Linked DNA regions of Homo sapiens. The protein of the gene in region 4 purifies or fractionates together with the protein of the main gene of each other region. This does not show direct contact. Each region holds a gene or a part of one and is shown on either strand. Other genes may lie near its edges. The genes, in order: HADHB, CAMKV, TMEM192 and SDC4.

What was found.
Region 1: the proteins of SDC4 (region 4) and HADHB purify together in Homo sapiens (co-immunoprecipitation; 2 studies listed by BioGRID and IntAct, with this or other methods). This does not show direct contact.
Region 2: the proteins of SDC4 (region 4) and CAMKV purify together in Homo sapiens (co-immunoprecipitation; 2 studies listed by BioGRID and IntAct, with this or other methods). This does not show direct contact.
Region 3: the proteins of SDC4 (region 4) and TMEM192 purify together in Homo sapiens (co-immunoprecipitation; 2 studies listed by BioGRID and IntAct, with this or other methods). This does not show direct contact.

The regions. Positions count from the first base shown.
Region 1 is NC_000002.12:26,282,939-26,289,960, reverse strand, and holds part of HADHB (trifunctional enzyme subunit beta, mitochondrial isoform 1 precursor), read right to left. Parts: intron 6,958-7,022; coding exon 6,910-6,957; intron 5,845-6,909; coding exon 5,757-5,844; intron 5,079-5,756; coding exon 5,004-5,078; intron 4,555-5,003; coding exon 4,390-4,554; intron 44-4,389; coding exon 8-43; 3' UTR 1-7. UniProt on the Homo sapiens protein: Mitochondrial trifunctional enzyme catalyzes the last three of the four reactions of the mitochondrial beta-oxidation pathway.
Region 2 is NC_000003.12:49,866,885-49,874,415, reverse strand, and holds the start of CAMKV (caM kinase-like vesicle-associated protein), read left to right. Parts: upstream 1-4,509; 5' UTR 4,510-4,658; intron 4,659-7,531. UniProt on the Homo sapiens protein: Does not appear to have detectable kinase activity.
Region 3 is NC_000004.12:165,109,842-165,117,505, forward strand, and holds the start of TMEM192 (transmembrane protein 192), read right to left. Parts: upstream 3,020-7,664; 5' UTR 2,933-3,019; coding exon 2,906-2,932; intron 1-2,905.
Region 4 is NC_000020.11:45,338,415-45,345,436, forward strand, and holds part of SDC4 (syndecan-4 precursor), read right to left. Parts: intron 1-7,022. UniProt on the Homo sapiens protein: Cell surface proteoglycan which regulates exosome biogenesis in concert with SDCBP and PDCD6IP.

The DNA.
Region 1 (7,022 bases), on a different chromosome or scaffold from region 4:
GGATCTATTATTTTGGATAAGCTTCCACTATCATAGCATGGCCCTGTAAAGAAAACAAAGTCCAATTAGAGCAATGAATGGTGATGAATCCACCTAGTACAGGGACAGCAGAGAACAAGGAGAAAAGTACAGGCTTTGGAGTGGGATCCTGGCTCTGCCAATCAATCACTGTGATCTTGGGAAAGTTTGTAGTCAGTCTAAACTGGAATTTCCTCTACAAAATGGGGCTCATAGTGTCTACTTCATAGAGTTTTTGTGGGCATCACATAACATACAGTATATTTGTATATGTGTGTATATATATACACACACATATATATTTATATACATTCATATATACATGTATACATATATGCATCAGGCTCTGTCTAGTACAGAATCTAATTCCTAGTGATGCTCTACAAATGGATGCTGTTAAAATGAGAAATCCAGGGGCTTTTTTAACTGTATAAACATAAACATGATACAGCAAATACCAATAAAAGTAAGTTTCTAGAGGGGAAAACTGAGGCTCTGAAAGGTTAAGTGACTCACCCAAATCACAAAGCTATTAAGGTAACAGGGCCAGGATTTGAAACCAGGTCTAGATGATTCCAAAGGCTGGGCTTGTCCCTTCTTCACTATTCTACACAGGTTAAGATAATGATCTGAGGGACCACAAAGGGAAGAAGTAGAATATCTTTCTTTTTTTATTTTTTTTATTTATTATTTTGGAGACCGTGCCTCGCCGTTGCCCAGGCTGGAGTACAGTGACGCGATCTCAGCTCACTGCAAGCTCCGCCTCCCGGGTTCACGCCATTCTCCTGCCTCAGCCTCCCGAGTAGCTGGGACTACAGGCGCCCGCCACCACGTCCGGCTAATTTTTTGTATTTTTAGTAGAGATGGGGTTTCACCGTGTTAGCCAGGATGGTCTCGATATCCTGACCTCGTGATCTGCCTGCCTCGGCCTCCCAAAGTGCTGGATTACAGGCATGAGCCACTGTGCCCGGCCAGAAGTAGAATATCTTTTATCCAGCACTATGCACAGTGCTATGTACTAGCTATGTCCTTAGTTTAGATGAGTCTAAATCCTAGCATAGAATTTTTAGACACCCTCTAAAAAACAAAAAAGTAAATAAAAGAAACTATTATTTACAAAGTGCCAAGTTGAACACTGCAGGTTTAAAGATTTGCCACATGGTCTTTGTCCTCAATCAAGTATACACTGGAGTTCAAAACAAACTGTTAAGTACTTGGTTTTTCTGTTTTTTTTGAAACAGGGCCTCCCTCTGTCACCCAGGCTGGAGTGCAGTGGCCTGAACACGGCTCACTGCAGCCTCAACCTCCCGGGCTCAGGTGATACTTCCACCTCAGCCTCCCGAGTAGCTGGGACTACAGGCACCCACCACCACGCCCAGCTAGTTTTTGTATTTTTAGTAGAGATGGGGTTTTGCCATGTTGTCCAGGATGGTCTCGAACTCCTGAGCTCAAGCAATCTGCCCACCTCAGCCTCCCAAAGTGCTAGGATTACAGGCATGAGCTACCACACCTGGCATGTTAAGTACATTGAAAAGGCACAAGCAGACAAAAAAAGAGCAGGGATAGGAAGGTTTGACTGACTTGGGGGTTGTCCTGAAAGAATTCATAATAAGGTAGACTACTCCTCTCTGGCTTGCTTATTTTATTTTTTATTTATTTTAATTTCTTTATTTGCTTTTTGAGACAAGGCAACTCTGTCACCTAGGCTAAAGTGCAGTGGCGTGAATACAGCGCACTACAGCCTCAACATCCCGGGCTCAAGCAATCCTCTCACCTCCCTCCTGAGTAACTGGGACCACAGGTGCGTACCATCATACCTGGCTAATTTTTGTATTTTTGGTAGAGACGAGGTTTTGCCATGTTGCCCAGGCTAGTCTCGAATTCCTGCGTTCAAGCCACCCAGCTGCCTTAGCCTCCCAAAATGCTGCGATCACAGGCATAAGCTACCGCACCCAGCCCTCTCTGGCTTTATTTTAAACACACTGTTTTCATGTTCCATGTTTTTTCTTGCTCTAGATCAGATTTGGCAACACCTGGAGATACTTTTGGTTATACCAACCGTGTGTACCTGGGGCAGAGGTGGGGAGGAGCTTGTTGCTACTGCTATCCGATGGGTAGAGGCCATGCTAAACACCCTACAACACACAGCCCCCCAAAACAAAGAATTGTTTGGCCCAAAATGTTAGTGCCAAAGTTGAGAAACCCTGCTCTAGATTCACCACGATGGATTTCTCCTCTGTCTCCAACCATGTTGGTATTGCTCACGTGGCTCTTGATCAAACAATGTCAAGTTTAATCTAGTTTCTCAGATGCATCTTATCTTCTCTCTTCATACTATAAACTTCTAGAAGAAAGGTGCTAGGTATTATTCCTTGTTCATCCATAAAAGCATCCAGTATTGTGTTATTTATACTCTACATGCTAGATAAAGAATTAGGGAACACATACTCAAATCTGCAGACATTACCCTATGTGGATTACGCACTATGCTCGTGAGTAATGTGTACAGGTTATCTCCCTGGTAGAAGCCTGGCATGAAGAGATAGAGGGATCGCTCTAGTCTTAATGGACCATGGTTTTCTGTAGATGAAGTTACACAGATTAAAAAGCATTTGTGATCATAAAGTCCAAAATGTTCCAACTGATAAATAACTGACCCCTTGGTTTCTGCAAAGTCTCTGAGGAAAATCCATGAAAAAGGGCTTTTAAACGTAAGATTTATTTCATTTACTTTATTTTTGAGACAGAGTCTCTCTCTGTCACCAGGCTGGAGTGCAATGGCGCCATCTCGGCTCACTGCAACCTCCACCTCCCGGGTTCAAGCGATTCCCCTGCCTCAGCCTCCTGAGTAGCTGGAATTACAGGCGCACACCACCACACTAGGCTAGTTTTTATAATTTTAGTAGAGACAAGGTTTCACCATGTTGGCCAGGCTGGTCTCGAACTCCTGACCTCAAGTGACCTACCCGCCTCAACCTCCCAAAGTGTTGGGATTACAGGCGTGAGCCACTGCACCCGGCCAGTTTATGCTTTTAAATATTTATTCATTTTGATCAGGAACAGGAAGTTTCTGTAATCTAGAGGAAGAGAAAATCTGTTCACATCGGGATTAAAAAAAAAAAAAAAAAACAAAAACAGGCCAGGCACAGTGGCTCATGCCTGTAATCCCAGCACTTTGGGAGGCTGAGGTAGGCGGATCACCTGAGGTCAGGAGTTCGAGACCGGCCTGGCCAATACGGTGAAACCCCGTCTCTACTAAAAATACAAAAAAAATTGCCCGGGCTTGGTGGTGAGCACCTGTAATCCCAGCTACTCAGGAGGCTGAGACAGGAGAATCGCTTGAACTCGCGAGGCAGAGGTTGCAGTGAGCCGAGGTGGCACCACTGCACTCCAGCCTGGGGGACAGAGTGAGACTCTGTCTCAAAAAACAAACAAACAAAAAACAAACTACAATCTTCCTTTTGGATTTTATTCCTAGAGTGAGATGCTACAGCAGTCAGGAAGTTGGGTCTCTAATGCAAGTGAAGTAGAAAGGAAAAAATCTGTCAACAATATATTTCCCCAGCTGAACAGCAGTAAGTTATCCAGAAGTAAATTAACTCCCCAGTTAAGGTATAATTCAGTTCTCTAGAAAGATAGTTTCTCTCTTGGAGAGATTTTATAAAGTCTTATGGTGACTAGATAAATAAAAGTTAATTATTAAAGAAGAAAATATATCAAGATGTTAATAATGTTAATGTCTGATGGGGAGATTATAGATGATTCTAACTTTTTCTATATACTTTTCATATATTCCACAATTTTCATAATCAGCATATATTTATAAGTAAAAAATAAACATTATATTGGGGAAAAATAGCTTGGGTTTAAATAGCTGTTTCCTTCCAAAGAATTATCAGAATTATGGCAGGGCATGGTGGCTCATGCCTGTAATCACAGCACTTTGGGAGGCCAAGGAGGGTGGATCACTTGAAGTCGGCAATTCGAGACTAGCCTGGCCAACATGGCGAAACTCTGTCTCTACTAAAAATACAAAAATTAACTGGACATGGTGGTGCACACCTGTAATCTCAACTGCTCGGGAGGCTGAGGCACGAGAATCACCTGAATCCGGGAAGTGGAGGTTGCAGTGAGCTAAGATATTACCACTGCATTCCAACCTGGGTGACAGAGCAAGACTGTCTCAAAAAAAAAAAAAAAAAACCCAAAAAACAAAAAGTTTTATCAGAATTACAGCTGTTATCCCTCCCCACTCCCCACCCCCAGGTCATCAAAAATATTGCTTTAAGAAGGTTTCAAACTAAATCATACATTCTAGTCATTCCAAGAAAATGACTCTCTGGAGGGTCCTATGACACCACTGTAACGTACCTGCCCTCCAGCTGCACACGCAGCCACTAAGCCATACTGGCCTCCTTCTTTCCGTAATCTGTTGGCAGCAGCCATGACCAACCTGCAGCCAGTGGCTCCAAATGGGTGTCCCAGGGACAGAGATCCACCCCAGTTATTAAACTTCTCCAAAGGAGGCAATCCAACCTGGCTCCCCCAAAGACACAAATGTAAAGATAAGTTTACTTAAGATCAGAATCAAGCTAGGCTCTTAGTACTACGAAGTAAGAGAGATAGAGGAAAATACGTAACGTCAGACATATTACAAATAATTTTACTGCAAAAGAAAGTAAGTCTAGGTCAATATTAAAAGTCAGGAGTCCATTTATTTTTCATCTAATGTCAGAATGCAAGGAACAAAAAACACAGAATTTTATTTTTGCTAAATAATTTCTATTTTTAAACTAAGAAATAAATATATTTAATGAAATACAAGAATTTCTACTTTTACACTAAGAAATAAATATCTTTAATGAAAGACAAAATTCTTCAAAAGAAAGAGAAGCTTTCCCTTCATATTCTTAAGAACAGGTAACTAAGATCCAATTATTAACGTGCTTTGAAAATTCACGCATTTTTTAAAATTAGAAACTCACCTTGGTTTTTCTACCCATGTAGTTTTCTGCAAACCAATCAGAATCCATGGCTTTAAAATTTGCCAAAATCTGACCCTGGAAGAGAAAATAATCGAATAAGAACCTCGTTATTCATGTTCCTCTACGCTTTCTTATAGGAATGGTTTGTGAAAGTTTAACAACTTTAGGTATGGTTTAAAGTTGAACAAATCGGCCAGGCACAGTGGCTCACATCTGTAATCCCAGCACTTTGGGAGGCCAAGGCGGGTGGATCATCTGAGGTCAGGAGTTCAAGACCAGCCTGACCAATATGGTGAAACCCTGTCTCTATTAAAAATATAAAAAAAATTAGTCGGGCATGGTGGCAGGCGCCTGCTTGTCCCAGCTACTCGGGAGGCTGAGACAAGAAAATTGCTTGAACCTGGAAGGCGGAGGTTGCAGTGAGCCGAGATCGTGCCACTACACTCCAGCTGGGGCAACAGAGCAAGACTCTGTCTCCAAAAAAAAAAAAAAAAGTAAAGTTGAACAAATCTTTGTATCAGTTTTCAATGGCAATTTCCTAAAGAAGCAATTTGGTATGTTCTCCAACACTGTATGTGTGGCCCTTGCTTCCCTCCCCTCGGGCCCCTCCCAGCAGTGTGAATCAGTACTTAAAATATGCAGGTCCACTCCTGCTCTACTCACATCATAAACCATGCCTTGCTCTCTCCCACAAATATGGATGACATTTTTTATGACTATAGTCCCTTCATATGTGTCTTTCAAATTACTTACCGAGAAAGCTTCATGAAATTCAAAAGCATCAATATCATTCATGGTCAATCCTGCCTTTTCTAGAACTTTTGGAGTAGCATATGTTGGTCTGCAAAGAAAAAATAAGTAATATCTTAAAACTTTAATTTTTAAACTAAGAGCTCCTTCATATTCCCCAAACTGAGTTTTACATAGGTACTCTAATGTCTTTTCACTCATTCTTTGATTTTTCTGTACTGATTAATGAAATGTTAAAGATAAAATAGTGAAACTGTACAGACATGCCCTCTACTCTTATGTTGCAGAGTCAGAGAAATTGATAATAAATAAACAGTGAGGGATAAGGACAAGCTAATAACATGAAGAACTGGAAGAACAGAGTTCAAAGAGCAAGGCAAGGGAAAGGGCTTGACTGATGTGAACGTCACAGTGGAGGCTAGAGGCTACAGCCTTGTGAGGGAACGGAACAGAGTCTAAACATGGGGAGGCTTTTATAAAAGGCTATATTAGGAAGATTGTGTAGCAGGGTGTGTAGCCATATGAAAAAATGCATATGCTATCTTAATGAAAAAGAATATAAGTTGTGTGTGTCCATATATATATGTAAAACTTATAGGAAAAAAATGGAAAATAATCCAAAACTGTAACATGATATACCAATGGAAAGGATTACTACTATTTTATTTATTTATTTATTTTTTTGAGATGGAGTCTCGCTCTGTCGCCCAGGCTGGAGTGCAGTGGCGTGATCTTGGCTCACTGCAAGCTCTGCCTCTCGGGTTCATGCCATTCTCTTGCCAAAACCTCCCGAGTAGCTGGGACTACAGGCGCCCGCCACCACGCCTGGCTAATTTTTTGTATTTTTAGTAGAGATAGGGCTTCACCGTGTTAGCCAGGATGGTCTCAATCTCCTGACCTCGTGGTCTGCCCACCTCGGCCTCCCAAAGTGCTGGGATTACAGGCGTGAGCCACCGTGCCCGGCCAGATTACTATTATTTTTTTTAAAAAAACCACCACATAAACCAATTATGAACTCAGGGCTTAATATACTCTCAAACCAGTGTAATAAACAAATAAATAATAAACCAGTGTTAATCATTTATTAACCAGTATAATAAAACATAGGCAATCAAATACTTGTGATTATAGTCCAAGGATACAAACTGCTACCTACCCAAGTAATAGTTGATCTTTTGGATCCTGAGACACATACATAAAATCCCTAGGTAAAAAAATAGAGAGGTGAGCTTTGGTAATAAAATAAAGAAATCAGAGATGATTTGTTTG
Region 2 (7,531 bases), on a different chromosome or scaffold from region 4:
ACTGGGACCCTTCCAGGACATGGCGGCCGTGGTGATTGATACAGGCACAGGATTCACCAAATGTGGACTGGCGGGAGAGGACCATGTCCTCAGTGTCATACCCTCACGAGTTCAGCTGCTGCAGCACCCAGCCCAGGGCCAGCCACGATATGCAGTGCCTGAAAACCAAGTGGGATCCTATTCAGTGCTGAACCGTGGTGTGGTCTATGACTGGGATGCACTAGAGGTGCTATGGCAGCACCTGTTCTATTGAAGGCTGGGTGTGCAGCCCGAGAAGCTGTCTGTGCTCGTAGCCGACTCGCCCATCTCACCACTCACCAACCGAGAAAAGGTGGCTGAAATACTCTTTGAGCATTTCCATGTCCCAGCCATGCAGACAGTGCATCAGGCCCTGCTGGCGCTCTATGCTTATGGACGTACCACTGGGCTGGTGCTGGGCAGTGGCCATGGCACTTCCTATGTGGCACCCATCCTCACTGGGGATCTGGCCCCACTTGACACCTACCGGCTGGATGTGGCTGGTGCTGACCTTACTGACTACTTGGCCCAGCTGCTGCAGAGAAGTGGCCACTCACTGCCCCAGGCAGGACTGATCAACCAGATGAAAGAGGCCTGCTGCTACGTGGCCATGGATGTGGCAGCTGAGAGGGCCCACACCCAGGCGCAGGCCGAGGTGGACTTTGTGCTTCCAGACAAGCAGGTTATCACGCTGGGGCCTGAGCGCTTCTGCTGCCCTGAGGCCCTCTTCCAACCCAATCTGATAGGTCTCAACCAGCTGGGCCTTCCACAGCTGGCCCTCCTAAGCATCAGCCGGTTGGAGGCCAAGCAGCAGGAGCAGCTACTGGCCAATGTGGTACTGGACGGTGGCAGCACCCTCATGAGTGGCTTCCCTGAGCGCCTGAGACAGGAGCTGGGCCCTGGTGCCACTGTGCTGGGGTCTCCCCACCGTGCAGTTGCTGCCTGGCTTGGGGGCTCCATCATGGCATCCCGGAGCTCTTTCCAGAGCCTGTGGCTCAGCTGCCAGGAATATGAGGAAGAGGGCCCATGGGCTATCTATAAGTACCAGCTGTGAGCATATAAAAGTTCTGGTTCTGCTTTCTTTAAGCACCGTGGCATGTTTCAGCCACAGGGTGGTGTGGGAAAAGCAGGAGTCCAGGCATGGGGTCATGGATGGGGGCCCTGGCTCTCTCCAAAGGCATGCCCTGCCTCTGCACTCTGGAACTCCATGGGCCCTGGCAACCTACCCTTTCTAGACAGCCCCGGAGCCCCTTGACTGGCATTGGCTCTGATCTGGCCTGACCTTTACTGCACCCCAAGGGCAACCACAGACAGTGGCTGCTGTGGGTTTTGCCCCGTTGCCCTGACGACAAGTGCAATTACCCTTGATTGCCAGCTTGTTGCCATGGCAATTTCAAACATAATGTAATAACCCACACAGCCTGGAGTGAGTCACAAGGTGGGGGGCGGGGGGCAGCCCCCTCCCCTGGCTCCAGAGGAAAAGACTGCTTGCCCTTCCCCATTGTGGGCCCTCTTCTGGGGACTGAAGCCAAGCAACATGGACAACAGTCAGGCAGTTTCAAAGATGGCTGGGGGCCTGGGGTGGGAGGGTTCTGTCAGAGTTCAGGCTTCTTGGGGAGCTGCACTGGTAATCTAGGTACCTCCTAGAGTCTGAACCTTTGCTGGAGCGCTATGCTGGGTTAGCAGGGGCTTCTATCAGCCAGCCAGAATCTAAGGGCATAGGAGTGCCGGCCTTTGGCACCCTAGAGCTGGGAGTTGGGGGCACAGATAAGTCCTGGATCCTGGGTAGGAGGCCCAACCTGAGCTGGGGGATGAAGCTCTGTGGATACTGCGGCTCGCACCTTATTCTGCCCCTCTGACTTTCTAGCTTTGGTGGGAGCCAGAACTACGAACTTGGGCCCTCTTCTCCTCCTCAGCCTCCCAACCCAGGCAGCCCCTGTCTTCAGGGTACAGGCCTCCTTAGGAGGGTCCTCATAAAGGCTACTAGGCAATGCTAATCTGGATTGCCTCTGCTCTTGTTCCAAACTCTGGTCTGTGCTAAAGGGCCTCCTGCCATCACTCTGGCCAGTGGAGTGGTGAGAAATCATGTCCCCTGACCCCGTCTGGCTTTGAATAGTGGAAGTAAGAACAAAGCTCAGCATTGGTCCCGTCCCTGCCCTGGAAGAGCTAAGAGGATGGCATTCAGCTGATGTTACTATCTCCTGCCTGAAAGGCAGCTGGAGGTTGAAGCCAAAACATTGAAGCCGGTCCTACCCTGCCTGTGCCTTCCTGTCTAGGGGCTGAGGGATAAGCCATGGCTCAATCCTAGCCCTGGGTTCTTGTCTTCAGATTGCCCTCCACAAATGGCAAAGACTTGTCTATCTTCACATACACCAGAGATCAAGGGGCTGCTCTGGTGGGGAGCCTGAAAACAGCCAATGATGTAGGGTCAGCACAGACCCTGCCCACTGCTGGACATGGTCCAGCCCCCTTCCCATGTCCAGCTCTCAAAGCCTGATTCAGCCTCCACAATCCTGAGACTTGTGTCAGGCAGGAAGGGGACTGATAACTCCAGGGACCAGCTACAGCGTCCACACACACGTGCCAGCAAGCATGCCTGGGTGCACAAAGAATGCAGACACACGTGCCCCTGGGCACCACTGCATACACTGTGCTGTTGCATCTCCCTCGGCAAAAGAGAGCATACACAACACGTACACGTGTGCACACACACCCTGCCACGTGCTCTCACCCACATGCACAGAGCGTGCTTAGGACCAAGAAGAGGTGGAGTACTGCCAGCAGCAGGCAGGGCGCTAAGGAGCCACCCCTTCCCCTGCCTAAAAATCCCCATTCCAGCTTCTCATTGACCCCCATGCCTGGATAGCCATGACCCTCAGGAAAGACAGAAAACATGTATGTGGCATGTGTGGGGTCAGCAAGCTACAGCTTGGCTACACCATAAAACTCAGAGACCCATTGTTTCAAGAATAGTGGGCAGATGGCAGGAAGGACTCAGTGCCAGGCCATTCATTCATTCTGCAGACATCAGCCGAGCATACTGAGATGAGAAACGGGTTCTGCCTTGCAGATACCCAGCCTGCCAGGAGATTCCTACCCAGTGGTGGGGTGGGTCCCATAACCCGAGACCACTCAGAGCCCAGGGACCCCAGAAGTGGCACCAGCCTGGCCTAGAGGAGGTAACACCAAGCCAGGGAGGAAGGTGAAGGGCTCAGTACCCCCTCTGGAGGAAAATTTTGAGGAACCTTGTTTGAGGCGGTCATTTCCTAAGCTAGCCTTCAGTCTGAGCCCCAGCCCCAGCTTCTGGACTTGGACAGTCCCTCCTGTCATCAGCCATGGGTGGCCAGGGCAGCCTCAAGATGGCTGAGGGTTTGGGGATGACCCCAACTCCCTCTCCCACAGCAGGGTCAGGAGGCTCACTGGGAGGAGTGAGGTGGGATAAAACCCAGCTCCAGACACTGAGAGGCCTGAGTCTGGTCTTCAGATACTGGCCTTAGGATGGTCCTCAGGGCTTGTGAGGGGTGTGGGTCAGGCTTTGGGTCCGTGAGCCTCACTGACAAGGGACAGAGAAATGGCCAAGGACTTCCTTTAAAGCTTCCTCCTGGTGGTTCTGAGCCTCCTCCCTCTGATTAGCACCCAGGCCAGGTGGGATACCTTGGTGCCACAGTTCTCCTGTGTCCCCATATCCCAGGCCAGGCCACTAGAGTGATACAACTCATGAAGTGTTTGACAGTGATTAGACTGAAAAGAAAGCAGAGGCCACACCATGTCACAGGTGACTTTTATAGTTTGGGAAATTTGGTGCCACACAGGAAGGGGCTGACTGTGCTGCCACCCTTGCTGGTACTTATGTTTGGGAAAGACTCTGGCCTTGCAGGAGTTGGGGATGGGGTGGGATAGGAGACTTTGCTACTACAGTCTAGGGCCCTCACTGTTTTCACACTGACTACCTGCAAACACACACCTCTGTGTGTTTACTGCTCCTAGCTAGGGGATGCGTAGCTAGGGGATGCTAGGGGATGCCACACTGACTACCTGCAAACACACACCTCTGTGTGTTTACTGCTCCTAGCTAGGGGAGCCTGCCCTAGCCCGACTGCCCATCTGGTTTTTCTAAGTTGGTCCTGCCTTTTGGGTCGGGTTCGGGGAGCTGGGCAAAGCCCCGTTCCCTAGAGACTAATGACTGGCAAGCGATCCTATGCAGCTCCAGGACTCAGGCTTTCCCCCAACTCTCCACTCACCACCCCTTACATTGGGCATAGGAGGCCTCCTCCGGCCCCAGGCTGAGGGCCTAAGGGAGCCATTGAGAACCTTGGCCAGGGCTAAGCAGGCCAGTGCTCACCAGCACCGCTGCCATCCCGCGCGCTCCTGCTCTCCAGTGGGATTCTGCCCTTAAGGCTCCGCCAGGGTCGGGGCGGGGCCGGTTGGGAGGCCCCGCCCCCAGCCCGCCCCCGGCCCGGGGTGCGAATCCGGTGCCGGCAAGCGGCTGGCGATGCTGGAGGTTCGCTAGCCGAAGCGGCTGCATCTGGCGCCGCGTCTGCCCCGCGTGCTCGGAGCGGATTCTGCCCGCCGTCCCCGGAGCCCTCGGCGCCCCGCTGAGCCCGCGATCACTTCCTCCCTGTGACCAACCGGCGCTGCAGGTGCGGGGCGGGCCGGGCTGGGGGCGCTTCCCGAACGCAGGTTGTGGGGCCTTGGGGGATTGTTTCCCTGGCTCGAGGTGCGGGATGCAGAGTGCGCGGGGGCGCAGCGAGGGCTCGAGGTCCTGGCGGGGTCAGAGCGCGCGGGCTTTGCAGATTTGGGGGAGGGAGTGCGGGGTCGGGCTAAAGTTCCCCATTACCTCGGACGGCTTGGGGGTTCTGGGGGGAAGCTTCTGCGGCTCGGAATTGTGAAAAGATTAACCCTCGAAGATTCGTGGTCCCCCGTGAGGATAGGGGCCGAGAGCTGAGCCGTCCCTCCCCGTTCCCAGAGCCGCCTCCAGCCCCTCCCAACTGTCCCCGGGCCCCTTCCCTCCCGCTTAGCAGTCACTAATTTCCATGACAACGGAGAGTTCTTTATGGGCGACAACCCGGAGGGGGCTGGGCGGGGCTGCCGCGGGGTGGGGGAGGAAGCTCCAAGCCCCTGGGGACCAGCAGCCCCCCAGCCAAAATTCAGCTTCCAAGCCTTCACCTGGGTGCCAGCTGGGGGTCCAGTGCATGGACCCACGTGCACGGTGGGGGTGGGGGCGCACATGTTCCTGCTGGGAGGTGCGGGGCTTGGTGCTCACACGTGTGCTTTCCGCATGTGTGTTGCTGTGCCAGCGGGGGCGAGCCAGCAGCACTTGGGAAAGGGGTCAGGGTGGCAGCACGGTGGGGAGCAGGGCCCCTGGCTGGAGGTGGCTGGGATAGTGACAGCATGAGCTTCTGCCTTCCCCAGCTTGTACTGTTTGGCAGAGACCCTGGGCTCTTGAGCCCCAGCCCCCTCCCCGCATAGCTCTGCCAAATTGCTTTTGTCCGCACCTCCCAGGCAGATCCTGCTCCACCAGGTTCCTTCCTAAGGATCAGGGCCCTCTGTCCCACACTAAAAGCTCAGAGTCTGCAGTAGTCCAGTCCCTGTGCTGTACTCCCCTTACCCCCAAGTCCAGGCTTTGAGCCCCCAGGACTACCTTTAGAGACCTGGTGCCCTCCCCCACCCTCAGAGTTGATTCCTGGCAGCTCCAGCGACTTCTGAGCCTCAGTTTCCTCAACTGGGGAACTGGTGTCTCCACTCAGAGTCAGGTTGGTTTCCAGGGTGGGGCAAGGGTCTCCCTTTTCTAATATTTGGTGTGGACCCTTCAGGTGCTCTCCTAGGCTGGCTGTTCACATATCTCTGATGGCCCTACTCTCCAGCCCCATGCCCTGGCCACCATTCACAGGCAGGCAAGCAGTCCTCTGCCCTGGGAGAAGGCCAGATTCCATGGTTTCCATTAGGGGAAACTGAGGCATGGGGAGGTGAAGGGCTGTGTGGTTATCCTGTTTCTGGGTTGCTTGTGGTGCCGTTTCTGGCACTCATGGCAGGATCTGCTGTTGGGGGTTGGTGAGAGGGGATTAAGCAGAGCTGTAAGAGGGGCTCTGGGGACCCAAAGCCTGGAAAGGATAGCAGATGGGGGAGGGGTTGGCTGGGAGGGTCTAAGTACAGCTGGGCCAACTGAGAAGAGGGACTATAAAGGGAAGCAGCCAGGCATCCGAGCCTCATTTCCATACCCCTATGCGTCTGCCTTCAACATGTTGGACCTGCTTTACCTAAGCTGCCGTGATGGCAGAGAGACGGGCTGGGAACTGTCCTGACTGGGGGGCTGCAGCAGCTGGCCTCTTCCCCACCAACATGCTCCAAGGAGCTGGCCTCCTTTTGGCTGTGCCTCCTACACCAAGTTCAGTGTATGTTTGGGGGATACAGGAGGGTGCAGTCTCGAAGGTCCCAGTACCATGGATAGCTCCTGGCCCAGGGATTTAGAGCACATCGCCATGGAGGCCTTAGGGCTCTGCTGGGCACCCATCCGCCCCCTTCAGAACTCCCGTCCACCTCCCCTTTCCTGCCCTTTGTGCCTGTGTCCCTTTTACTTTGTCATCTCCTTGCTCCTCTTCCATCACAGGTTCTGTCTTTGTCTGTGTCTCTGCCCCATTCTCTTTTTTCTAAATTCTCTCCATCTCCCCACCTCCCCTTTCTTGATGGGGACCTGGGTCACAGAACCTTGAAGAAGCAGCCAGGCTAAGGTCTCAGGAAATTCTTGAAGAAGGGACCTGACCAACACATCTCCCCTCCCCCTCCCCTTGTTTTAAAACTTCCATCACCATAGCAACCCTTTACTCTAGTGCCTTCCTCTGCATTTCCCCTCCTCCACCCACAGGGAAGCAGAGCCTCCAGTGGATTCTCCTTCAGGGGTTCAGAGATTTGGACCCCAAGTGCTTGGGAGGAGACAGCTGGCCTTTGGCTTTGCCTGCATGTTGACAGCTAAACTTTCGGGATGTAGCACTGGACTGCATGCCCACCCCCAAAACTGGAGAGACCTCCCCACAATACTCCCTCATTAGATGGGCAAAATTCAGCTGTAGGAACTTCTACCATGATTTAGCTCGAGCCGGAGGCTCAGTCAGGGCAGCCCCTTGACCGGTCCCCTGAAGCAATTGGATGGTGGTCTAGAAGCTTGGCCCTTGTTCTTAACAGACCTTGAGGGAGGTCTTCAGCTCCCCTGGTCCTGTGGGTGACACCTCAGCTGTGAGTTAAGCAGGGCTTGGGCTTCAGCATGTTCATTGCAGCAGGAAACCCAGCCCCAGCCCTTGAGAGAGTAGAGCAGCAGAGAGGAGGGGGTGCCTGCAGGCTGGTGTTCACAGCTGCCACTAAATTAGGAGGTGTTGCCTACAGTTGTTGGGAGGCAGCTGGAGGCCTCTTGGGCCCCTCCTGGCCTCCCTAGATTTACTGCAAGCTCTGGAGCCCCACGTGGCAGGGGACCAAGGTAGCAGGAAACTCTGTTTATGTCTATGAAAGGTAGGGCCTGAAC
Region 3 (7,664 bases), on a different chromosome or scaffold from region 4:
CCTAACCAAGTTTATGTTCTCTATAAAACTGGCCTTGTTAAGTGTTTTCCTTCTGCTTTAAAATCCTATAAAACTTATTGCCCATAATATTCATTTGGAATATTTCTTATGCTGCCTTGTATTGTTTTCCTTTTCATGGGTGTATCTTTTGTTTTTCCTAACTACACTGAAGGAGTTGGGGACTATAATATGGTTCTTCTCTATGTCACTCAGGAGTATTTACTTTCCATTGAATCCTATAGGAAATATGCAGTGTAACCATACAAACAGCACCCAGTCATTCTATTAACTCACCATCTGCAAGTGAAGGGTGAGGGGAAGAGGACTCCTGAATCCAAATGATTTTTTCATTTCCATTATTAACTACATTACCACCTGTAGAAGATGTCTGTTGTTTTTGCCCACATGGTATCTCTTCTCTCTTCTGTGACAATAACTCTATTTCCTTTGAGGACCCACTGTCTACTTCTGCATTAAGTCTTAGTGGAACCATCCTTCAATACCCTTCCTCCTCCTCTGCTCTAGGAGTGGTCATGGAACAAAAAACAGTTGGGTGAATCCAACTCTTTCCATGAGCAGTAAAAGAAAGATCATGAGGCCGGGCACGGTGGCTCACGCCTGTAATCCCAACACTTTGGGAGGCCAAGGCAGATGGATCACCTGAGACCAGCCTGACCAAAATGGAGAAATCCCGTCTCTACTAAAAATACAAAATTAGCCAGGTGTGGTGGTGCATGCCTGTAATCCCAGCTATTTGGGAGGCTGAGGCAGAAGAATCACTTGAACCCGGGAGGCGGAGGTTGCAGTGAGCCGAGATCGTACCATTGCACTCCAACCTGGGCAACAAGGGTGAAACTCCATCACAAAAAAAGAAGAAAGATCATGATTTAGGCAGATTCATTCCAGGGTAGACCCTGAAAGGACTCCTGTCACTTCAATGCCTTGAGATGCCCTTGTTTGGGTCCTTTCAGAGGCCTTGGCATATACTCACCCTATAGCCTTTCGAATACATCCTTTTCTTAAATTAGCCACAGTTGGTTTCACTGCCTGCAAACAATGAATCCCTACTAACACAAAGTCTTTGACTCAACTCATTTAAGTGTCTGTAACTAAGGCATGGTCCAAAATTTTTAGCTTTTTCTTGAAGGCTAGGAATCATGTTTACAAAATACCAAAAGCAGGCAACTTACTCAGATCTAAAGTGACTCCAATATGTGGTTGGTAGCAAAACATTAATCTCTAATTAATTTTTATTTATTTTTATTTTTGAGACAGAGTCTCGCTCTGTCGCTCTGTTGCCCCGGCTGGAGTGCAGTGATGCGATCTTGGCTCACTGCAACCTCTGCCTTCCGGGTTCAAGCGATTCTCCTGCCTCCCCAGTATCTGGGATTACAGGCCCCCACCACCCCACCTGGCTAATTTTTGTATTTTTAGTGGAGACGGGGTTTTGCCATGTTGGCCAGGCTGGTCTCAAACTCCTGACCTCAGGTTATCTGCCTGCCTCGGCCTCCCAAAGTGCTGGGATTACAGGCATGAGCCTCCCAGACCATCCCCAGGCTCCAGTGTTTGAGGAAGCAGATTTCTAGTACTATATGCATCCTAAAGCTAAAAGCTACAGATCCAAGAACGCCAGAGCAGCTTAGCATCAACCAAGAAGCACTTACTGCATGTGTTTTTCTAAGACACTCTCATTTTCCTCTTACATATTCGGTTTTTTCTGTACATTGTCAGCTCATGAAGCTCAGCCTTAAAAACTCAGAAACAATGAATTTTGCTTTAAATATATATGAGTCTCAAATCTACTTACAGGTCTTACAGTTAATTTTCCATTTTCTCAACTGGAAAAAATAGAAAATTTTAGTTTCATTAGAAATTGTTTGGTCTTTATTTCATCAAGATTATTTAACTGGTTACTGCACAAGAATCTAAGCTACCGTAATGCTGGAACTGTTTCATGTTTCTCTTCCTTTTCCTGATGCAGTTCATTCAGTGATAGGATCACAGTAATATTCCTACTAATTTATTAACCCAAATTAGTGCTTTACAGTAACTGTCAACTTTGCATTTCTCAAGAGCAAAAATTTTATTACTTGCCAGTGGAAAATCCAGTTAACTCTCAGCATACATACATGTTTCTCCTAAAAACACCTTACGATACTGAAGCAAAGAAATAAGATTTTTGTAATTATGCTACCATTCTGTACTATACACGCTGTAAACTAGGCCACTGGTTTTTTGTTTTTTTGTTTTTGTTTTTGTTTTGGTAATCTGGTTTGAATCTATCAAAGATTTAAAAACCTTTGTATTCCTACCATGCTAGATTCAAAACAACACATGACACTTTTTCTCTCGTGTGGGTTTCCAGGCCATGATAGCGACAGGTCTGCGGGACGCTGGCGCCCGGCCCGAGCGTCGTTGTCACTCCAAGTCCACAGCCTCTAGAGCCAAGGCAAGGGACCTCACCAGGAAGGGAGATTCGCCCCCTGTGCCCCTGGGACGTCCGAGCGGAACCCATCGGCCCGGCTCCCGGAGACTCGCGGGGAGGAAGGGCTGTCAGGCCAGGCGCGCATCACGTGAAGCTGCCAGTTCCGGGATCAAAGACGTACCCCGCACGTGGGCTGGGCGCCAGCCTGGGACCCCCGGGGGCCGCGCGCCCACCGCCCAGGAGCCCACCCCAGCCTCCACTGGGAAAATTAGCCCGGAGCCAACGTGTCGCGGATCCCACAGCCGCCTGGAGCCCTCCCAAAGCCCCGCGCCCAGGCCTCCCCGGGCACAGGCGGCGCCCCCTTCGGCCGCGGCCGCAGTCGCCAAGGGTGGCTTCCCTCTCTGAGTCTCCGCCCCGTGCGCCCCGGCACAAGAAAAAGCGGATTCCGGGGCCAACCGCCCGCCGCCTCCGTGCACTCACGTCCTCCATCCTGCCCCCCGCCGCCATTTCCCGACGCCGGAGGCCGAAGCCCTGGCCAGCCCGGCCTCTCCACCTGGACCTGTAAGCCTCTGGCCGCGAAACTCGCCACCTTCTGGGACCTGCCAGGCCCCTCCCCAGACACACCCCCTCCTGCGTCCGCCCCGCCTCCGGCTGGCCCGATCCCCGCCCCCTTAGCTCCGATTGGCTGAGATGGTGGGAGGGGTGTGCCGGCCCAGAAGACCTGGACTGTGGGCGGTGGCTACCGCCTGAACCACCTCGGTTCCTGGGGCTTCTGGCCGCAGCCCCTCGGTGCGCTCTTACCCAGAGACTTGAGCATTTAAGGATGCCTTCCTAGTCCAAGAATTTAACTATTTTCGGGCTCCACTTGCATATTTTAAGAACATTAACTTTTTTCGGTCTTGCCTGGTTGTTTGCAGACACAGCTCTACGCCTAGGTAGAACCAGCGGTAAAATCCTACTCCGCCAGCAGAGGGACAGGAGCAGAATAAAGATTCCAATTTCCATGACATATTTACAGATTTCTCCAATGGGAAACAAAGCAGTTCGGAATGCTTACGGCGTTCGTTTATTAAGACAGAGTCTCGCTCTGTCGCCCACGCTGGAGTGCCCTAGCACGACCTCGGCTCACTGCAGCCTCGAATTCTTGGCCTCCTGGCCAGTTCTCCCACCTCAGCCTCTCAAAGTACTGAGATTACAGGCGTGAGCCACTGGGCCCTTGTTTCTTTTAAAATTGAATTTCAAAAAGAGAAAAAACTTCAATGACATTTTCTAAAAAGCTCATGATTGTAAAAATGTAAGCAAACAAGGAAAGAAATTTTCTGTTACCAGCTCCCGGAGAGAACTTTGATATCAGTTAGAATATATACACTCATACATTTTTTTGGTGGGGCGGCGGAGACGGAGTCTCGCTCTGTCGCCCAGGCTGGAATGCAGTGGTGCAATCTCGGCTCCCAGGTTCAAGCCATTCTCCTGCCTCAGCCCCCTGAGTAGCTAGGATTACAGGCGCGTGCCACCAAGCCTGGCTATTTTTGTATTTTAGTAGAGACAGGGTTTAGCCATGTTGGTCAGGCTGGTCTGGAACTCCTGAGGTCAGGTGACTCGCCCGCCTCGGCCTCCCAAAGTGCTGGGATTACAAGTTTAGCCACCGCGTCTTGCCCACTTTCATACATTCTAATGCTTATTTGTACATTGAGTATAGTGTGATCCAGTTTAGGATGTGTGAGATAAAACTACGCAAATGTTAGTGAAGGAAGAGATGGTGTAAGACTCCACGTGATCTTCTTTTTTCTTTTTCTTTTTTTTCTCGTAGAGACAAGGTCTCACTATGTTGCCCAGGCTGGTCTCATAATCCTGAGATTCTATGAATTATTTATCACAAGCCTTTTCTAGACGTGCAAATTTTCTTCTCTGCATTTTATTTTGAAAATTTTCAAGCCTACAGAAATGTTGAAAGATTAATACAATGAACATCCATGTACCCCTCACACTTGATTCATTAGTTGTTCATTTTTTGTCTTGGTTGCTCTGTGTGTGGGTGTGTGTGTTCACATACTTTTTTTTTTTTTTTTTTTTTTGAGATGGAGTCCCGCTCTGTCGCCAGGCTGGATGGAGTGCAGTGGCGCGATCTCGGCTCACTGCAAGCTCCGCGTCCCGGGTTCACGCCATTCTCCTGCCTCAGGCTCCCCAGGGTCTGGGACTACAGGCGCCCGCCACCACACCCAGCTAATTTTTGTATTTTTAGTAGAGACGGGGTTTCACTGTGTTAGCCAGGATGGTCTCGATCTCCTGACCTTGTGATCCGCCTGCCTTGGCCTCCCAAAGTGCTGGGATTACAGGTGTGAGCCACCGTGCCTGGCCATTTTTTAACTGAACTACTTGAAAGTAAATTGAAGACAATATGAAGCTTCATTCCTAGATACTTTGTTGCCTAAAATAAGGATATTTTATATTTTCTTTCATAACCACAATATCAATATTACACACAACTAATAGTAATTCCATGTTTACTAATAACCAATCTATGGCAAAAATTTTCTAAGTTGTTTCCAAAATGTCTTTTTTAGCTGCTTTTTTTGTTTTATTTTGTTTTGTTTTGTTTTTGAGATGGAGTCTTGCTATGTTGCCCAGGCTGGATTCACACTCCTGAGTTCAAGCAATCCTCCCACCTCAGCCTCCCAAGTAGCTTGGATAACAGGCATACACCACTGTGCCTGGCCCAGCTGCTGTTTTTTCTTTTTCAGTAACCAGAATCCAATCAAGGTTCACACATTTCATTTCATTATTATGTCAAGACATGCTTTTCTGTTGTTGTTTTCGACACAGGATCTCACTCTGTTAACCAGGCTGGAGCACAGGGGCGCTATCATAGCTCACTGCAGCCTCAACCTCCTGGGCTCAAACAATCCTCCCTCTTCAGCCTCCCAAGCATCTGGGACTATATGTTCACACATCCATACCAGGCTTATTTTTAAGATTTTTCTTTTTGTGAAGATGGGACTTTGTTATGTTGCCCACGCTGGTCTCAAAACTCCTGGTCTCAAGCCACCCTCCCGCCTCAGTCTCCCAAAGTACAGGGATTACAGGTGTGAGCCACTGCACCTAGCCAAGACATGTACTTTCACAGGGACAGCACACTGGTTAAGACCAGGGCTCCAGAATTAGTCATGGAGGTTTGAGTTCTGCATCTTACCAAGCATGTGATATTGGGCACTTAGCTTAAGTTCTTAGGAGCTGACTGGGCAAGGTGGCTCATGCCTATGGCCCCTAGCATGTTGAGACACCAAGGCAGGAGGATTGTTTGGTGCCTGGAGTACGGGACTAGCCTGGGCAACATGGTGAGTCTCTGTCTCTACAAAAGATTAGAACATTAGCTAGGTGTGGTGACGTGCACCTGTAGTAGCAGCTACTTTGGAGGCTGAGGTGGGGAAGTTTTAGTTTCCCTTTTACAGAAATTTTCTTTCCTTTTGTTTTGTTTTGTTTTGTTTTGAGATAGAGTTTCACTCTTGTCGCTCAGGCTGGTGTGCAATGGCGTGATCTTGGCTCAGTGCAACCTCTGCCTCCCAGATTCAAGTCATTCTCCTGCCTCAGCCTCCCAAGTAGCTGAGATTACAGGCGTCAGCCACCATGCCTGGCTAATTTTTGCATTTTTAGTAGAGACAGCGTTTCACCATGTTGGCCAGGCTGGTCTTGAACTCCTGACCTCAAGTGATCTGCCCACCTCAGCCTCCCAAAGTGCTGGGATTACAGGCGTGAGCCACTGTGCCCAGCCAGAGATTTTCTATTAAATAAAATAATGCATGTAATGCTCTTTATACAATGTTGTCTCTACAAAGCACTAAGCAAATGTTAGTCATTTTTTGTCTAAATCAGATTTATTAAGGCATTATTAACATACATAATCATTTTTGTTTGTTTTTTGTTTGTAAAGACAGAGTCTCACTATAGGCTGGTCTTGAACTCCTGGTCTCAAGTGATTCTTCTGCCTCGGCTTCCCAAAGTGCTGGGATTACAGGCAAGAGCCACCATGCCAGACCCATTGTTTTAATAATATATTAAAAATATGTTCTCAGCCCATATAATGCTCTAATGACTGTTAAAGCAATTTATATAAGCATAGCCCTGTAAATAAGTTATATTTAAAAAGTATCTGACACTTCATTTTTGTATGACTAAAGATCTTTTGGTGAAGATTCTTGCGTTTATTTACTTATGAGGAGTAAGGAGAGGAGGAGAGAAGCTGTTTTCCTAGTGTTGGGGCTCAGAAGATAATATCGGCTAGGCGCAGTGGCTCACACCTGTAATCCCAGCACTTTGGGGGGCCAAGGCGGGCGAATCACCTGACATTAAGACTTCAAGACCAGCCTGGCCAACAGACGAAACCCCATTTCTACTAAAAATACAAAAATTAGCCAGGCATGGTGGCATGCGCCTGTAATCCCAGCTACTCAGGAGGCTGAGGCAGGAGAATGGTTTGAACCCAGAAGCGGAGATTGCACCACTGCACTCCAGCCTGGGCAACAGAGCAAGACACTTTTCAGATTTAAAAGTTTAAAAATGCAACTAGCCTGGCCAAAATGGTGAAACCCCGTCTCTATCAAAAATACAAAAATTAACCAGGTGTGGTGGTGCGTGCCTGTAGTTTCAGCCACTCAGGAGGCTGAGGCACAAGAATTTCTTGAACCTGGGAGGCAGAGGTTGCAGTGAGCCGAGATCATGCCAGTGCACTCCAGCCTGTGTGACAGAGCAAGACCCTGTCTCAACAACAACAACAAAAAAAAAGAAGAGGATAATATCACAAGTATAGTGCTTTTGCATGCTGAGTACTTGAAGTGAAGGACACATTGGCAGGCCTCAAAAGCCAAGTTTCTCTATGACTTTTGAACAAACAGGCCTTGCTGACCCTGGTACTAAGCATTAAAGTAGATGCTTGTAAATTCTTATCCCTACTCAGTCTATTGTCATTAGATCACCTGTAATCCCAGCTACTCAGGAGGCTGAGGCAGGAGAATTGCTTGAACCCGGGAGGCAGAGGTTGCAGTGAGCCGAGATCGCGCCACTGCACTCCAGCCTGGGTGACAGAGCGAGACTCCCTCTTAAATAAATAAATAAATAAATCTGTTATGCTTTTCTCTTGTTAATCTGGCTTTTGTTATAGGAGTGTCAGCCATGACCTTTCCACCTCTATGCTACCAAACAGTTCACCATTAGAAGATGCTGGACTGAAGCCCCATCTTTCCTG
Region 4 (7,022 bases):
CTGTTGACCAGGTCAAAGTCCTCAACAGGGGCTGTAGTTCCATCAGGAGACTTGTCTCAGGCTGAGAGACCTTTTCCCACCCCTCACTGCCCCCAGGAGCCATGGAAGGTTGTTTATGCATCCAGCCTCTCTTTCAGTATGTGAAAGTGCTAAGAGGTATTTCAAAACAACCCATGGGATTAGCATGCCCACTGGCTGTTAGGAATTACCTCCGTTTTACATTAGAGAAATGAAGGCTATGAGCGAAAGTGGGGCGTGAAGATCTTGCAGCCAAGTCAGCAGCAAAACCAAGGCTGAAACCAAGATTTATTCCCAGTTCAGCCCTCTTTGTGGGCACCTGTTCATCCTTAACCCTTCATTTTTATACTCAGTTTCCAAAAAAGAAACTAGTCTAGTCTGAAGTCACCCCGGGGCTCCGCGGCACGGCCTGGATTCGATCCTATTTCAAAGCTCTGAAAAGATGGAGTCTTCAAAGGCTGCATTTAGATGAGCCCAGGATTTCCCTCCTACAGCAAGTCAAGGGGCTGGGAAGAAACTTCTTCCAGCTCCCAGTGGTGATAGGAGGACACAGGGAATTAAATCTCTCCTTGAGCTCTGGAAGCCCCCTCTCTGCCCTGTTTTGGTCCCTTCTCCACCCATGACCTCTGACAAGAGGGAAGGCAACTCCAAAGTGGATAAGAGCCATTTAGGACTAGGCCAGCAAGACGGGACCAAGCCCCGTGGGATTGTGGGCAATCACTCTTTTTTGTGTAAAGGTTGGGAAGGCACCAACGGTCCTCCTCTCCTCCGCCCTCTTTTCAGATAAAGCCCATTGAGTCTGGGGTGACTTTGAAGAACCAGGCCACCCAGCAGCCAGGCCCAGCCCTGACCAGAGATGGACCCCGCCCTGCTCCTGGCTAAGAATGTGGTCTGTTCTCCTCAGCTCACCCCACCTTTGCCCAGGCATGTGTGTTCGTGTGTATACATGCACAGGCACCCTCTCTGGGCTCTCAAGTCTCCTTGTATCTTTGTCCCTTTCATGAACACACAACAGAAATTACCAACTAAGTAAGACAGTGGTGGCTAGGCACAGTGGCTTAATCCCAACATTTTGGGAGGCCAAGGTGGGAGGCTCACTTGAGCCCAAGAGTTTGAGATCAGCCTGGGCAACATGGTGAAACCCCATCTCTACAAAAATTAGCCAAATGTGGTTGTGCACGCCTGTGGTCCCAGCTACTCGGGAGGCTGAAGTGGGAGGATCACTTGAGCCCAGGAGGTCGAGGTTGCAGTGAGCTACGATCGTGCCACTGCACTCCAGCCTGGGTGACAGAGGAAGACCCTGTCTCCAAAAAATAAAAAATAGGGCAATGGGCCTAGGTCCCACAGACTCTGCTGGCCCTGTGGCTGGTGGGGATCTGGGATTAGTGCCTGGGGGTTTAGAGATACTACATTCTTCCCCAGACTGTTGGGGAGAAAGAAGGGAGGGGAAGTGCTCTTTTGTTCTACAGAAACTAACACCTGCCAACAGAAGGTATCTGATTTTATAACCTAGCAAACAGACAAGACAAGGGATTTTGCCAAGGTCATCCAAGCAGCTGGCAGCGGAGATGGACTTAGAACCTAGGTATCCTGGCTCCCAGACTGGAATTATCTTCTCTCCCCTTCCAGGGTGTTGGCTGCCCCTAAGGGTCTCAGCAAATCCACAGGCAGCAGCTGTCATTACAGTTATACTCCCCATCTAGTCTTTTGGCTATAGGCATGAAGCTACGAAAAGGTCCTATCCCAACCCTATCCCCAAATCCTATGGCTTCTATCACCCCAGGAAAAGCATGAGTGACTAAAAGGAGTATCCACTACATGCCAAGCACCATGCTGGGTACTTTGTTTATACAAGTTCATTTAAATGGCAAAACAGCCTTGCAAGGTGCTCTACCCATTTTGCAGATGAGAAGACTGAGGTTCAGCTGAGTCACTTATCCAACGTCATGCAACTAGAAAGCTAGAGCTGGGATTCAAATCCAGATCTTCCTCAAGAACACGTCCCAACCACAACTAGGCTTCTCACTGCCACCCACTCTTCACTTCTCTCCAGCCTAACCCGCCAGTCCACAACACACTGGCTGGGCCAGGGCTCCAGGGCAACCCTGTCCCTGCCTAGGAGTAAACAAAGGTGAAAGTGATATCACTTAAACAAAGGAACAGAAACTTGGCTGGGGCACCAGAGAGGAGTTCAGGGTCAGGGCTTGGATAACTGTGAACTAATGAGAGCCTCTCCCGACCTGGCTCCTCCCCAGGGGAGGTAGGGTCGGGGACACACTTGACCCTTCTTTCAGGAGGCAAGACCAGAAGGGTAATAACTGGGCAAGCCAAATTTAGTGGGGAGAGGGGATGGTGAGTACCTGGGGCTCCAACACCTGGACCCACCAGAATGATTTCTAGCAGGAGACCCCCAGCAGCGTACACTACTCGTAACTGTTCTTCCCCACCCCACCCACTTCTTAAGGGCCAGACATTCCCCAGAATGGCTAAAACCTGGGGCCCACAACTGTGACTCTACCACCCAGAGTGGTTGTGCATCAAGGCAGATTCACAAGTGTGAGTTCTGCCACTTCCTAACTATATGAGCTTGGGAGTTTATTTCATCTCTGAAATCCTCAGTTTCCTCTTTTGTGACTAGGGCTGGTAGCACCTTGCAGGGTGATGAGGATTAAGAGGAATGCATTTGTGTGTGCAAGGGACCCAGCACGTGATCAATGAATAGTGGCTGTGATTAACCCCTACCTGCCTTCCTCCTGGCCAGTGGGATCAGTGCTCAAAGGATCAGAGGCCTGGGAAAACTTGCAGAGGCAGTTCTGTTGCTGGAAGGAAGCTAGCCTGGGGACAGGGAGATGGTGCTTTGCAAACTGTAAAGGAATATAATCTATAATAGGTTATCATTTTGCTTCTGAGCCCAGAGACTTTTCAACAACCAATCAGGTCCCTTCAGACTGTGAAAAAAAGATACAGAGATAGTCAGAGACCTGCCCAAGGTCACACAGCTTTGACCACCTGTCCTAAGCAGACAGAGGTAAAGACCATTTTTATTTTCCCCGAAGGTGCAAATGACAGTGACCAGAAACACCTGAAATTCTACTTGGGGACCTGGGTCCCCAGGGACAAAATAAATAAATAAAAATCTAGAAGGTAAAAAGAAACTACACACCAATCCATGGTCTGGTGCTCTGGTGCCTGAATGGTTAAACCAGGTCTGGGGGTGGGGGTGGAGTGAGGGTTCAAATGTCGCCTTCAAGGTCGGGTTACTCTGAACACAATCACTCAGGAGAGAGCCAGGCCTGGCACTGCCTGCAACCAGCTTTTCACCAAGCCTCAGGGCAGCCCATTCCCACAGCAAGAACTCCAGGATCCTAGGGTGCCAGCTAGAAATGGGGGAAGGGTTCAGGAGCCTCTGGATGTCTCCCTGCCAGGAGCTGACCCAGCACCCTTGTTACTAACTCCCTGGATGATCGTGGACAATTCCCTTCTCTGAGCCTCAGTTTTCCAATCTGTAAAAGACAGGTCTCAAAGAGACAAGCCTCCCTCTGTCCCAGCCCAGTAACCAAGCTGGGCATTGCTCCGATTACCGGTGGAGACAGCCAGGAGGGGGCTGGCTCCCTCAGGGCCTCAGAGACAGAGGTGCATTGAAGTTGGAGCTTGTAATCTAGGCAGCAGATCCGAAATCCCTGCTGGATCCGAGGGCTAGGGAGGCTCTCGGGATGTAAACAAACCTCCTGTGTTCTCAGAGCAGAGTAGAGAGCCCACGCTGCAGCCTTATCTCAGCTGATTAGATCAGCCCTGGGTGCTGGCTTCCTGCCTCTTCCCAGCCTCCCTCACCGACCCCCAAGGAAGCCATCCTCCAGACCAGGTCAGTCTGTCCCACAGACGGCTCCGGCAGGGCTTCTCCAAGGCAAGGAGTATCCCCACTCTGGGTAGCCGGGCCAGCCATGTGCCACATCTGCCCCCACGCCCAGAGGCTAGAGTGACACCGCCAGTCCCCGCAGGCCTGGCCACTGACTGCTGGGCTTCACCAAGTCACTGTTTCCACACATACCAGCCTCTCCCTGCCTCCCCTTTCCATTACCCCAGGTGTCACCTGACCAGCAGCCTCTTCTACTGTGCCAGAGAAAACTGGAGCAGCCGAGCTCCCGGGCCTGGAGGACAGGGGGAGGGGTGAGATGCAGCCTGAAGGGGTGGGGGCCGCTGAATAGGAAGGTCTGGGCTGAAGGTGGGGGTTGGGGGAAGCAGGAGGCAAGAACAAGGCTGGGAAGTGGGGGAGGGAGGAAGGATGGCTGTAGAAAGGTCAAAGCCAGAAAGAACTGCTGAGATCAGAGTGACCTTTTGGGGAGTACTGCAGCCCCCTGAAAAGGATAAAAAGGTCTAAACCCCAATAACTGTAACTCTTAGTTTACATTTTCAACATATGCACAGACACCACCTCCCCAAAGCCAAACTCTGGCCGGGTTAAGAACCCTCGTCTAGGTGCTAATAAAGCCAGAACTTTACAAGTTTGCCAAACAGCGATGATGACCTTTGAGTGCCACAGGTGTTTTATAGAGGACACTGGAGTTCACATCAACAAAGTGACGTATTAACTGTGTGTGTCCCTGGGTGAGCAGCAGAGCTAGGACGGGGGCTGGAGTTTTCTGTACCCTCTTTTTCAGTCACCCAGCCTTCAGCAGATGGGACCAGAGAGGCCCCAGTGAGATGCAAGAATGTGCCCAAGGTCACCACTGTGTTAGTTAATGACAAACAAGCCCAAGAAGTCAGGCTTATTCTTCTAAGGTTAAATGAGACCCCAACTGTTGACATATGTGTTCTCTCTCCTCCCTCTCTAGGGCACCATGCAGTGAAAACATACGAGAAACTGGCTTTTCAGAACACTGTACCTTTTCTGTCCACCAACACCCCACCCCTCAAAGTGCTATTTGCAATCACTCAGCCTCCTTAAGGGTAGAAACTCTGCCCCTCCAGCACAGGAGGGTGACCCCAGGTCCTGGACAGTGTCCAGAGTGGTCTGATACCCTTGGCAAACCCCCTGCCCCCTCTCCCTCCAGGCTGCAAACTGTTCAGCATGAGGCTCCAGCAAATCCCAGCAGGAGAGGTGGGGCTGCCCAGAACTGGTTCTTGTTTAAACATAAACCCATTCGATAATTAGCAAACAGCCCACTTCTAAGATAAACAAATAGGAGATTTGGACTCCAAAAGCCCCACCCTAGATTTCTCCCTTCCCACCTCCCAGCTGTGGGGGTAGATAAGGGGGATAAGGGGGATGGAGAAAGCTTTCCAGGAGACCTGGGCTCAGAATCTTCAGAGATAGGACCCCCTGGCATGAAGGTGGCCTGGGCAAGGAAGGGAACTGTCACTAAGTAACACCTCCTCCCTACCAGGCATGGTACTAGGTGCCTTTATTTACAGCCCTGTCGTCTCCTTTAAGCTTCGCCACACCGGTATCATGATCTTCTTAACAGACCAGGAGGCTGGGGCTCAGAGGTGGAGTAGCATGACTGAATTCATGTAGCCAGTAAGAGGTGGACTTCGCACGTCTGGAGTTAAGTCTGTGTAACACCAAGCCAATGTTTCAATGCCCTCTGGCCAGCCCCAGGAAGCAAAGAGGAGTCCTCACAAACATCAGAAAATCCTGGGGTCACACCAAACCTGAACAGTACCAGCTTTTGCTCTCTGAAAAAATGCAGGCCAGTTGCAGCCTCAGTTTTGCCTTAAAGAGGAAAAAAGTACTACCTGCTCTGCAGAGGTCTAAAGCCCAATTTTGAGGACTGGCTGCACAATGTACAATGTCAAAGTCTACATGCAGGCAAGGGGCTGTGAAAGTGCGGGACCTAGTACAAACATGTCCTGTATGTCCCCTCGAGCCCCGGACACTGAAACAGTGACTCCCAAAGGACAAGGTAAAACTCTGAGCTCATTCCAACACCCCCACCACAGAGCTGTCCTATTAGCCAAGAGTTTGAAAGGAAATGGGTGACTCAGGCAGGCTACGCTAGCATGCAGTGACTCACAGCGCTCGGTCCAGCCCCTTACCCCAATTTTAAGCATTCATTTGGAAATCACACTCGCCTGTCCAGTCCGGGAGGTTGAAGGACAGCTAGGAGCCAACTTCTCCCAACAGGGAGATGGGGCTGGGAGCCCAGCCTGGCTTCCCCAGCTCCTCATTCAGGCAGGCTCAGCACTCCAAGTCCTTGGAAAAGCCCTCTGTTTCTAGGAGCTGGGGATGGCAGGAGCTGAATGTCCCCCCGCCACCCCAACTTCTCTTCTGAGACTGGGATTTGTTTAGACTCTTCACCAAGGAGGCCAGCAAAGGGCCCCTCCCCTCATCAATGGGCTCTCTGGGCAGGAAGGACCCTTGGAAGGCAATGGTCCAGCCTCCTTATTTTAGAGTTGGGGACACTGAGACCCAGAGACAGGGCATGTTTGCTCAAGGTCACCCAGCAACGCAGAAGTAGGACCTAAGGTATCTACCTTCAAACCCAGCAAATTTCCTCATCTGGAATATTCTGAGGACACTCAAACCAGACACCTTGCCCTATCAGAAGGACCTGGTTCTGACCTTAGGAAGCCACTGCATTGTTCCGAGCATCAATTTCCTGTAAAAATAGAGAAAATGGTACCTCGCAGTACTGGGAGATACTCATACTAGCAATAAATAACAGTAATGAACCATTTAGAATAAAGTTACATGCACGAATTTATTCATTCATACAAGCATTTCCTGAGTACAAACTAGGGGACAGGTATTTCACAAAAACAAATAGAGCAGAGTTCCTGCCCTCAGTGTGCGGGGGGAGAGAGGGAGGGATTCAGCATTTGGTGGAGTATGTTAATTCCCTCAAGTTAATTCCTTCAAGAGAGAGACCTCTTTTGAATAGTAGGTACTTAAGTTATTAATCAAATTGAGAGATGGAAAGGACTCTGGAGGCTACCCTGTTCAAACCTTTCATTTTAAGGTGGGGGATGTCAGCCCAGCGGGGAAAGAGGCCTCCCCCCAACCT